Regions from separate parts of the Homo sapiens genome. Here all the other regions are linked to region 2. Evidence: fine-mapped expression QTL. A gene starts in region 2. Each other region holds a variant in brackets. All regions are shown on one strand. Distances are from middle to middle.

Region 1 (4,249 bases), 130 kb after region 2:
CAGCATTCTTCAGTTTAGTATTTATCTGATATATCTTTTTCACTCTTTCCACATTTTCTTTCATTTCTTTATGATAATGGGACTCTTACAAACAAAACTTAACAGGTTTTTAAAAATATTGAATTTAATATTACAAAATTTATTTTAAATGAAGAATTATTTTAAATGTATAATGATCACTAATATATGTTATTGGTTCTATTATTTTATTATGTGTTTCCTATTTGCCTAAGCTTTTCTGTTTCTCCTTAACTCTTTTCTTACTAGTTTATTGTTGTTTTTTCATTTTAATTATGAGTTTTTTTAACCCATACAGAAATTTTATATTTGTTTGGTTAAATTTATTGATTTTGGGAATTGCATTTGGATTTTGAATTTATAGTTGCCATTTTTCATTCTCATGACTAGTGTATTTCAACATTTCTGAGAAATTCTTACCCTTTATCTATTCTAATTTTGCTTCATCTCAATTTCCTTTATTATTTCTTTTGGAGCCCTGACTAGATGTGTTATCTTAACCTATTTTTAATTTCATAGGTTTTTTATTTTTTCTGGGCTACATTTTGGACAATTTGTTTGAATCTGTTTACTAATTTCTATCCTAGATTTTTATTTGTGTCTGAAAGTCATCTTGGCATTTAAATCCAATTCTTTAAATTTTATTCTCTACCAGAGATTTGACAGACAATAGAGGTGCTGTAAATTCAGACTGTAAATCTCTATGAGGGCAATTTTGTGGTTATGAATTCTCCCTTTTCTCTCCATCCCCACCTCATCTTCCTCTATGACAAGGCTTGAGACAGGCAAATTTCCTTGCTATCTCCTCCTAGGTAACAGGTTTTGCTTCTTCTTCATCTTTATACTGCTGGCAGAAAATCCTATTAGATTTCCCACTTTTCTGAGTAAGTGCTAAGCATTATCACCTGTTTCCTGGATATTGTGCAGTCACTGGAGGAAACTCAGGTGTTCAGGGTTGGGCAGAAACCCTCAGAGGTGACTTTGGCACTGGCTTATCTCCTGAGTTTTCTGTGCAGCAATGGGGAGGTCCCACAAATCCTTTTGTTTGTTTTTAACTCAGTGATACACTTAAAATTTAAACTATTCATATGTACTTATTCAGCTTTTTGGTTGATTTTATCTAGAGAGTAGTTTAAGGTTTCTGGTGGTGTTAGAAAAGAAAGTTTTGACCTAATTTCTTACATCTGTAATTTTACTTCCTCTGCAAAGTCATTATTCCTTAGTGAGTTGTATGTTTTTAGTGGGTGGCTCTGTTGTCAACTGATATTACCATATCCTTTTGGCTATGAGTCAGCTAGCCGGGGATTAAAAGAGAATTATTTTTCCATCTGCTTGTCATCTAGGTTTTAAAGTAGATAATTTCATCTCCTGACAAAAAAAATCTGTTTCTGTATTTTATAAGCAGAGTGTCAACCATGTTGACATTCTGTTTCCTTTTTTGTTTATATTTATCATTTGTTTATATTTATAACATTATATTTTATCATTTTATGTTTCATAACTATTTCTATTTATAGTTTGTTTTAATTATTGTAAATATTTTGACAGGGAAGGTTGTCACATCTCCTTCAATATCAGATCTGGCTTCCTGTCTACTGGTGTTTTTCTGATTGTCATTGTGTGAGTACCAAGAATTGTTTTGGGGTCTTTGACACAACACAAAAATTTAGCAAATATATAGTCACCAGCCTATAGTGCTTCACCAAATCTGAATGTTGCCTTCAACAGAAGACTGTCTGTTTCTTGTTTAGGTTGATATAACTCTCTTTGCTGGTGCTGAATGTTGTCAACCTTGGGCAATCCAGTTGATTTAACCTTGCTTCTTCATGCAAATTTCACTTTTGCATGAGTTTCTTTACCTAATTAAGTTAGAATTTTTGCCTTGATATTCTATCTTCTGAATAATTTTTTCCAAATTTGGGGGACCAAGTTTCAGAGATGAGAGAGCACTGGATCTGGCCACTGTGTGAAAGAGAGATTCTGTCT[GA/A]AACCATCCCCATCCACACAGAAGCACAGATCAGATTTACTTTGATCAATTTCTGAGATTTTGCTACTCAGTTTTTGTAGCCATATTGGTTATTATCATGGATATGTGGTAAAATTATGGAGGACGACAACAGTATTTTGTTTTGTTTTTCATTCCATTCCTTTTCTTTCCTTTTGCCTAGTTATCTTAAACCCAAAAGACCTAGCACTTAGAAGGTCTTCAATTAAGTTTGGATTCAAGCCCAATCTCCAGTGTTGCTTCCTCTGGTTATACTGTCTGTGGGATAATTTATCCTAAATACTATTGTCCAGAGTATATACAAGTTACCTATAGTCAGCGCTTTAGGGAGAGCTTTTAGTAGATGAATTCCTTATTCAAAATGAATGCTCTAGGCTTAGTTAACTAATAATGTATCATTATTAGTGAAATTGAAATGAGTGATATTTAGGTTATGATTGCTTGGAATGGTGATTCAGGACCCAATACTTTGGCCCGAATAAATACACAGGAGAAGATACCCAGTAACCAGGCTGTATGTATCAATGGAGTGGAACTTCAGGTCTGCACTCTAGTGGACCTGCAGACCCCCTTGCCTCAGAGGATCAGGATCAGACTATAGATGCTGACTTTGAGTCCCCTCTGAAGTGGGCGTTCCATACATAGGGCTGCTGGCTATGTCTTAGGTCAGAGAGAGGGACTGTGCTGCTCCAGAAAGTTCACACCTACTCTTTAATAATAAATGTCTGCATCTGACAGAAGGTGGTCTGAAATTTGTTTTACTGCAATCTGTTTTACTGCAGTTGACTTCTTGGAAGTGAGGTACAGGGCTGGAGATTATAGACCCTCTCCCACCTCTGACTATTAGAGGTTTCCAGTGTAGGACTTTATGTTTTTTAAACAGCCACACTGACTGGTTTGCAATGCTTTAGTTTTATAGTTATGTGCTTTCCTGTCTGCTTTTCTAGGTATCAGAAATGCTCTAGGAGCCAGACTCTGGAGTACACTCTGCAGTTGGGGTATCAGGGTCTTGCTTTGACACAGCATATTGTAAAAAACTGAGGAGAGTCTTTTGAATTCTGTAAGTGATAATGATAATTCTTTTTTAGCAAGAAAGAATTGAAAAACACAAGAAAGCATGCATTAAACTTCCTCATTTTTCTAGGTTATATTTCTTTTGGGTGTATCTTTCCTGGATATTTTGTCCTTTTTTTTTTTTGACCTATCAGTACTATTTTCAGACCAAGAGATTATTAATATAAGTTCTTATTCACGTACAAAATGGTAACACATTTGTTTGGGGTTTTATAAAACAAAAAGCCCAGTATTTACAACTTATATGTGATTCATTGTTCTTTGGGAATTAGCTAAACATGGATAATATTACAGCCTGAGCAGCAACTGTGTGTGTTTCATCCATAAGTCACCATATAATTAATTTTTCTGTGGAGGCACCCTCTTCAATTGTCGCATATTCTTTTCCTGAGATCTTGCTGGGCTTTGTAGCACATGTGTTTAAAAACCTCTTTATTCTGAAAAAAGCCACCCATTGCGTAGGAGTGTGAATTCAAATGTTAAGGTCACCATGGAATCCCACAGTTATTCAGTTCAGTAAGATCTGTGTGACATCACACTTTTGTTTAGTATCTTAGGGAAAAAAAAAAGAGGCTAATACTTGGTGCCTCCAAGTGCTAAATGAACCTTTGTTTTCTTCTAAATTCTCTCTGCCTGACCACCAACCAAGGCAAAGGAGCATTTCCCAGCATGTTAAACTTATGCTATATAAAAACAGAGCTGATTAGTTCTTCTCTGGAGTGTAAACCACTGACTTTTCACCATGGATTGGTCTCTTTCTCGCACATTTTTCTCTCCTTCAATGCGCTTTTTCTAGAACATATTCACTCATTAACATTCTGCCCAGCACCCCCAAATTTTTGTCCTTCTTACATGCAAAATATATTTATTCCACCTCAATGGCACCAAAAGTCCTGCTTATTTCAGCATTAACTCTAAACTGTAAAGTCCAAAGGCTCATTGATATGGGTGAGACTTGAGGTACAATTCATCCTAAGGCAAAATTATTCCCCACTTCTGAACCATGAAACGAGAGAAGTTATATGCTTCCAAAATACAATGGTGGGACAGGCATAGGACAGACATTCCCATTCCAAAGAGAAAAATTAGGAAAGAAGGAAGGGGTGATAGGTCCCAAGCAAGTCTAAAACTTGGCAAGGCAAATTCCAGTAA
Region 2 (4,249 bases):
TAAAACTTCTGAATAGAATCTGCATTTTAACAAGATTGTCGAAGTGGTTTGTAATGCATATCAAATTTTGAGAAACATGACTATATAGTATCTAGCACAAAGCCTTGAGAAACAGAAGGCACTACTTATCTAGAGGAAATTTTATCTTCCTAAATCCAAGATTATAAAAATAAAGTTTAAAATACACCTTAGTGCTGACAACATATTGTTTTTATCTGCTGTTAATAGCACAGTTTTAAAGTATTGTCAAAGGACCTCTGGCATCAGAATCACCTGGAGTGCATGTTAAAGATATCAGACACCTACCTAGGCCTTGCCCCACATGTACTGAATGATAATCTAAAGAAATGCACTGGAAAAAAATCTACATTTTAAACAAGCTCATTAGATGATTTTTTAAAAAAATTTACTCATTCTATAGATATATACTGTGCCAGGTACTGTTTTAAGCACTGAACAGCCTAGACATCTTTGCTGTCATAGAGCTTAGACTCCATTACAGGGAGAGTCACAATTTTAAAAAAAGGCATACATAAATAAGGAAAATTAGAGAGTGGTCAGTTTTTGGTATATAATTAAAACAGGGTAATTTTATGAAGAGTAATGTGGTATTTATATACATCTGGTCAGAGAAAGCCCCTTGTAGAAGATAATGTTTAAGCTGCAATCTGAATTATAAAAGGAGGTTGCTATATAAAGATCAAAAAGACTATCCCAGGCAGAAGGAATACTATTTAGATAGTAGAGAAAAGTGCACTGAGACAAAGCGACACAAGGTCAAAGCAATTTGTGAGCCAGTTGGCAGGTCCTCACTGTATGGAAAGCTACAGGTTGACTATGATGGCTGCCCCCATGTTCCTCTCTGTTACCCAATGTTTCAAAAGGAAGATAAATTTAACTTGAAACTTGTCAAGTTTGAGATATTTGTGAGATAATCAGGTAGTAATATCCAGCACTAAGTAGATAACATGAGAGAAGAACTCTGAACATCTTAATTGCTCTACACAAAATCTATCAGTCAGCCAATTCTTACTTATTGACAGCTGTGTGGATGCTATCATGGCAAGTACTATGGAACATACAAGAAAATGTAAAAATAGACAGAATATTTTATTTATAAGGACTTTTGCCTTAAAAAATATTTCTAGGTTCATGTACCAAGATGGAAATCATAGGACAAAATACCCATGTGAGAAGAAATCATGAGATGCACTTAACGTTCAAGCATCCTTGGTAAGAATAATCTGACAAATAGCTAAGATATACTGGTTGGATGGAAAACATGGGATCTTTGGTTAGATGAAAGAAGATATGGCTGGGCGCAGTGGCTCATGCCTGTAATCCCAGCACTTTGGGAGGCCAAGGCGGCTGGATCATCTGAGGTCAGGAGTTCGAGACCAGCCTGTCCAACAAGGTGAAACCCCATCTCTACTAAAAATAAAAAAATTAGCTGGGCATGGTGCTGGGCACCTGCAATCCCAGCTACTCAGAAGGCTGAGCCAGGAAAATCTCTTGAACCCTGGAGGCGGAGGTTGCAGTGAGCCAACATCGTGCCACTGCACTCCAGCCTGGGTGACAGAGTGAGACCCTGTCACAGGGAAAGAAAGAAAGAAGATATGAATTGTATGGATGCTTTAAAATGACCAAAATAATAGTAGGATGATCATTTCTGACTATGAAAAAGTTTCATACACACACATTTTTGTTTCCATCTTTACCACAAACTATTCTTTCTAAGATGGAGAAGTGTTTTATATTCTTCACAAGCTTCAATTGTTTTCATAATCTCTAATACTTTTGCTTTGACTTACTTTAATTCCTTAGATGCTGTTTTGAGTGGGCCCCATCCAGTCAGTTGAAGTCCTTAAGAGAAAAGACTGAAGTCTTCTGAAGAGGATAGGATAAAGCTTTCAGATACAAGGTATCAATTTTTTGCCAGAATTTCCAGCCTTCTAGTCTGGCTTGTGGATTTTGGAAGTGCCAGTCACCACAATTACATGAGCGTGTTTTCTCTTTCTCTCTCTACATACACACACACACACACACACACACACACACACACACACGGCCTATTGATTCTATTTCTCTAGGGGAACCTAATATACCTGGCAAGACAGACGTTATGTGATGAATAGTACAAAGAGTGACTATTCTAGTATCTAAGAAGACTGAGGAAGAACATTGTGATCTAAAATGGTTTCGCCCACAGATGAGGATGGCCCTGAGGTTAGTTTCTGGAGGAAGGCTAAGGTTTCAGTAAGTAGAAAAATGTGGAGGAGGAACAAGGGCATAGTTTTAGGAATGCAAGGTGAATTATCTCATGGTAGAGAAATGAGAACGGTTTGGATAGGATGGACTGTTCATGCAGAAATGGAGAGAGAGATAAGGTACATACGATTGTAAAAGGCACTGAACCAATTTTTAGGACAACTTTTATAATTTTCTGGAATGAAAGAGACAAAGCCATTGGTATTTGGTACAATTAACCTGATTATTTGACATTACAGCCATGGATATACTGGAAGGACTTGGGGAAACACAAGATTTAAGTAGACTCATTAAAATCTAGTTTGATAGCAGTAAGTAAGACTATTTGAGAGGTATTTTTAAGGCGGTAGGTAGGTAAAGAGGACAAGGAAGAAGAAATAAAAAAAATATAAGTTCAGCGATCAAACTTTTAAAAGTTGTAACAAAAGAGTAGTAAAGATGGTAATAGAGAAGTTATGAGACAGAATTGGTTTTGGGGAAATGGTAACATTCAGTTTAAATATGCAAATTTGGGTTGATATTGGTGTCCAAGTGAAAATATCTGGCAAACAGATGTAAATGTGGCACTAATAATTAGGAAAATTGCCAACCTAGAGATAAACTTGCAATTGTCATATGCACAGAAGGAATAATTAATTTTGCTTTAAAAATCTCATGATGTCATCTAAATGCACAGAAGTGGTGTAATGTAGCTAAAAGTGTTACTTCTAGAGCAGAGCCATCCAACAGAACTTTCTGCAATAATTGAGATATTCTCCACACATCCAATATCCTAGCCGCTACACATATGTGGCTATTGAGCGCTTTTAATGTGCCTAGTGAGGGAGCTGAATTTTGAGTTTTATATAATTTTAATTAATTTATTTTATTTATTCAGCTTTAATATGTATAATTGACAAATACTATTGTCTATATTTAAGGTTTACAACATGATGATGTGATATACATATACATTGTGAAATGATTACTGCAATGAGCACATCCATCACTTCACATATTTACGTGTTTGTGTGTGTGCGTGTCTGGTGAGAACGCTTAAGATCTACTCTCTTAGCAAATTTCAAATATACAATACAGAATTATTAACTGTAGTCACCATCCTGTACCCATCTTATAACTGGAAGTTTGTACCCTTTGACCAACATCTCCCCATTTCCTCCACCTCCTAGTCTCTGGTAACCACCATGCTACTGTCTGCTTCTAGGAGTTTGACTTTTTTTGGATTTCACACATATCTCTGGCTTATTTCACACAACATAATGTCTTCCAGTTCCATCCACGTTGTCACAAATGACAAAGTTCCCTTCTTTTTTATGACTGAATAATATTGCTTTTCTTTATCGATTCATGTGTCAATGGACACTTTGGTTGTTTCCATATATTGGCTGGTGAGAATAATGCCGCAATGGACAGGGGAGTGCAGATACCTCTTTGAAATACTGATTTCATTTCCTTGGGGTATATACCTAGAAGTGAGATTGCTGGATCAGATGGCAATTCTGTTTTTAATTTTTTTAGGAAACTTGATGCTCTTTTCCATAATGGCAGTACCAATTGACATTCCCACCAAAAGTGCACAAGGTTCCCTTTTTCCATACCCCTGTTACCTCTTATCTTTTTTATAATAGCCATTCTAAAGCTAGAAGGTGATATCCCATTGTGTTTTTTATTTGTATTTCTCTGATGATTACTGATGTTGAGCACCTTTTCATGTACCTGTTGGCTGTTTGTATGTCTTATTTGGGAAAAAATATCTATTTGGGTCTTTGCCTACTTTTAAATGGGGTTATTTGTCTTTTTGTTATTGAGTTGTATGAGTTTCTTATATACTTTGGGTGTTAACGCATTATTCAAAATGTGGTTTGCAAATATTTTCTTCCATTGTGTAGATTGTCTTTTATTTTATTTTCTTGAAATGGAGTCTTGCTCTGTTGCCCAGGCAGAATGTCTCACTCTGTAGGGATGGGGTTTCACCATGTTG
Region 3 (4,249 bases), 120 kb before region 2:
CTTGTAAGTATTTTGTATAATAGCTCACAGAGGTATTCTAGAAAACTTCTAAATTTAATACATTTAAAATTTATTCTTACGATTTTTAATTCTATTTAATATGAAAAACTCCAAAAGTATAAAAATAGAGAGAAAAATTTAATAAATGGCCCACATACCTATCACCCAGCTGGAATTTCAATATTTGCCAATTTTGTTTGACCAGACTTTAATTTTTTTTTTTTTTTTTTGAGAAGGAGTCTCGCTCTGTCACCCAGGCTGGAGTACAGTGGTGTGATCTCGGCTCACTGCAATCTCTGCCTCCCAGGTTCAAGCGATCCTCCTGCCTCGGCCTCCCGAGCAGCTGGGGTGACAGGCATTGCCCCCACACCCTAATTTTTGTGTTTTTGTTAGCGATGGGGCTTTGCCATGTTAACCAGGCTGAACTTGAACTCCTGACCTTAGGTGATCCGCCCGTCTCAGCCTCCCAAAGTCCTGGGATTACAGGTGTAAGCCACCACACCCTGCCCAGATTTTAATTTTTAAAAGCGTAGAGTGATATTCAGAAACATTTACATACTAAATAAAATAAGGATTAAATTCATTAATTTTATAGCCTTTATAAGAAACACTTCCATAGTCTATGCCATGCCTATGGTTCTGTAAGGACATAGATCAGTGAGATACTCAATTCCTCTGTTATAATCTGCAGAAAGAAATAGGAGTAGCAATACTGTTATACATATAAATCTTAAAATTAAAAAAAAGCTTCTTACATCCTTTACTTTCCAAAATACAAGAACAAAATCTTATTTTGACTGTGATGTATCTTTGAAGCATTCTATTTTGAGAATTTCCAGATAGTCTTATTTCTGTCACTAACAGGCATTCTTCTTAACCATTGTGTAGCTCTAGTAATGCTGTATTTTAAGCTGTCATACATATAAATCTATTAAAATTCTAGAGGGAAATAATTATAAGTTAAAAACATTTAAGTATATACCTAATGGACTATTTTTATTTTAAAAATTAAAATGTCTAGAAAAGTACTAAAATTGAATGTATATTTAATGTATAAGACTATTATTTATTTTGTATTTATTTATTTATTTTTGAGAGCAAGTCTCGCTCTGTCGCCCAAGCTGGGGTGCAGTGGCGTGATCTCGGCTCACTGCAACCTCCGCCTCCCGGGTTCAAGCGATTCTCCTGTCTCGCCCTCCCGAGTAGCTGGGACTACAGGTGCGTGCCACCACACCCGGCTGAATTTTTTTAATTTTTTTATTTTTAGTAGAGACGGGGTTTCACCATGTTAGCCAGGATGGACTCGATCTCCTGACCTCGTGATCCACCCACCTCGGCCTCCCAAAGTGCTGGGATTACAGGCGTGAGCCACCACGCCCAGCTGTATAAGACTATTATTGAGAGATTTATTTTGAAATTATACACCCTACCTATTATTTCTCTTTTAATATTCACAGTCTTTTAGAGTTTGAGGCTAAATTTGTTTGTGTGCATCAATTTAATAGGTATACTTTCCTTTTTTTCCCCTTTGTTTGTAAATATATTTCCCATGAAAAATGGTGTCTGAAGCAGCAGAATATTATTTACTTTGCATATATTATCAGAGAAAAAAAAACAAATAAACCTTAATACGAATCTTCATCCAAGATCAAAACTTTAGTTTCTCAGTAGAATTCAGTATAAGAATCAATCTTTTTTTTCAAGAACATTCTCATAGCATCAGGCATATAAATTAAAAGCATATATTTTAAAATATGAAATATAAATTTTAGTTGTAGAGGTAAAAATTTGATTAAGACAAGACCCCTTTTCCCCGTTTGCAGCCATAAAATTATTTTGCACAAACTTTTAACTCTTTATGTTACTATGACATTATCTTTTGCAGAGTTTTCCAAAGACAGCCTTCATTTAATAAGTGGACATTTATTTTTTATTTTTATTTTTCATTTATGTTACATTTTATTTTTTCAACTTTTATTTTAGATCCAGGAGTATATGCGCAGGTTTGTTGTCTGGGTATATTGCGTAATGCTGATGTTTGGGGTATGAATGATCTTGTCACACAGGTACTGAGTATAGCACCCAATGGTTAGTTTTTCAGCCCTTGCCCCTCTCTCCCTCCCATCTTCAGTGGCCCCCAGTTCCTACTGTTGCCATCTTTATTTGGACATTTAAGATCACAGTTGTGCTTACTGGCTTTTTCCCTTCTTGACTGCGGCTGTCTATATTTGGTTTCTTTTCCAACAAGGCAAACAGATGCGCAGCCCCCGATTTGGCTTTGGAATATTCAGGAGCCAAAACGAGCGTTT[C/T]TCCGATGGCCATAGCTCCATATGCAATTGCAGTAAAAACTCTATCAAAAGATAAAGCATTTGAATCTTAGGTCCATCGATCCTTTGTAAAACAGTAGAACTCTAAAAGTAAAGAAAAAAGCAGGCACAGGAATATAATCTTTTGATGTAGACGGCACCCCTAACGCTGAAGACCCACCAAGTTATCTCTTTAAAAAATTTCTACCATGTAGTAATCATTCCTTGCTCTGTACACCAAAATGAACTTTGGAGCTTGGGTAATCTTAAAAATGTCTCTTCCAATTAGAGCCACAGATCAAAGGTCCCAACTAGTGAATATAAAACTTCTTAGTCATCTTGATATGAGGCTTGCTTGCTTGGAGATTTGACAGAGAATTCAACTGACAATAGGAAGAATGAATCTCCAGTAGTGAGATCTGGATTTACACAGTAGATATGATTTTTTGTTTGTTTGTTTTGCATATAATGTAGTTAGGACAGATAACTGAAGCTAAATGACTGGTTATCTGTCTGATATGCTACATTATTTAGAGAGCAAATCATGGGGATCGTATTTTCCTCAGGTTCCCAAAGCAAAATCTGACTAAAAAGACTGAAAGAAGAACTTTGATCTTTTAGGTTTGTTATTGATTATGATCTCAGTTTCAAAACATGTTAATTATAAAATGGTAAGTGTGCAAATGATGTTTGGAAGCACACAGAATATTTACTCGACTGTGGCACAGGACCTGACCATGGTTAAATATTTTCCTCTCATTTTCGATTTCATTTTAGATATGAAAGTAGTGTACTAGAATGCAAAACAATGCATCTTAGTAACAAACCTAACGGCACAATCAGGCTAAAACTGGACCAGTGTCGCTGGCAATATTTAAACATTAGGCAGTAAAGGGTCATCACAGAACCCAGTTGCTTGTTTGCAGTGCTGGATAACAGCAAAGTAAACACGTCTGGGCTCCTTGTGAATTTCTCCCTCAATGGGGCCTATCAAAGGGTAGATGTAGATGCTGATGCAATCTCTTCAGTGACCTAGACCTCAGATCCTGAATCCTGTTGGCTTTACAAAGATCAAACACAGTATAAAATATAAAAACAAAAATAACACTAAAATAATTGTTATTTAGTTCAGTGATGTCAAGGCATTTTTTAGTACTGATATTTACAGAAAGTGTTTAAAGCTCAAAATGCCATTTGAATTATTTGATACCCAGCTATAAACATCAGAAATGGTCACTGAGTTTAGGTAACCAAATCAGAAGGTTTTTTTTTTTAAATGTGTTTTTAATGCAAGGAAAAATCAGACTGTCAGACTTAAGCCTCAGTCTGATCCAAGAATCAGCAGGTGAGCTGGGAAGATAATTGGATTATGAGTTAGGAGACCTGGTTTCTAGTCCCAAAGGGGTAGAGGCTTCTCTGAAATCAATAACTGAGAAAATAGCTTCTTCCCATGATTTGAGATATGCTAAAATCTCTACCTGTCCTAACATTCCCACTATAACAGTAATGGTAAGCATTAGACATAAATGTCTAGAGGCAGACATCCTTGTTAGGTCCCTCTGAAAATGGAAATATTAATGAGAAAGGGAGAAGGGCCTTCAACTCAGAGCTTGTGTTTGTGGGAGGTAAATGACCCAAAGGATGGAGAATGGAGCCGGAAGAAAGGGTTCAGTTAGAGAAGGGAGAGTACAAGCAAAAGCCCTGATACCGTCTTTAATGAGTGAGTGCTGAGAGAAACGTAAGTGGGATGGGGGCTGATGCCGATGAGGGTTATGTTGAAGACCCTGGAGGGGAAGTGTGGACTTTGAGGTGTTGGACTATCTGGGGTTGAGTGAGGGACACTAATCTTCTTCATCTTTTTTTTTTTTTAAGACAGAGTCTTGCTTTGTCATTCAGGCTGGAGTGCAGTGGCATGATGTCAGCTCACTGCAACCTCCATCTCC

Direction of the effects. Positions count from the first base shown, and alleles are read on the strand shown. Sizes are in standard deviations (SD) of each study's normalised expression.
For the expression in monocytes after R848 of the gene that starts at base 1,982 in region 2, GA is the low allele of the variant in region 1 and A is the other (large effect, 0.80 SD a copy in Quach 2016).
For the expression in testis of the gene that starts at base 1,982 in region 2, allele T in region 3 goes with a lower level than allele C (small effect, 0.32 SD a copy in GTEx).

The links. PIP is the estimated chance that this variant, and not a neighbour inherited with it, causes the effect.
Region 1: its variant is the best candidate, but not a certain one, in a credible set for the expression of ABCB5 in monocytes after R848 (Quach 2016, PIP 0.51).
Region 3: its variant is the best candidate, but not a certain one, in a credible set for the expression of ABCB5 in testis (GTEx, PIP 0.55).

What each region holds. Positions count from the first base shown.
Region 1 is chr7:20,481,603-20,485,851 of GRCh38, reverse strand. No RefSeq gene overlaps it. Among named protein-coding and RNA genes, the nearest start is that of ABCB5, 130 kb to the left of the region's middle. The variant GA/A (reference allele first, on the strand shown) is at 2,005.
Region 2 is chr7:20,613,400-20,617,648 of GRCh38, reverse strand. It overlaps ABCB5 (ATP binding cassette subfamily B member 5), which reads right to left and starts at 1,982. Exons shown (of 28, transcript NM_001163941.2): 1 at 1,812-1,982.
Region 3 is chr7:20,737,084-20,741,332 of GRCh38, reverse strand. It overlaps ABCB5 (ATP binding cassette subfamily B member 5), which reads right to left. Exons shown (of 28, transcript NM_001163941.2): 24 at 2,194-2,350. Among named protein-coding and RNA genes, the nearest start is that of SP8, 48 kb to the left of the region's middle. The variant C/T (reference allele first, on the strand shown) is at 2,310.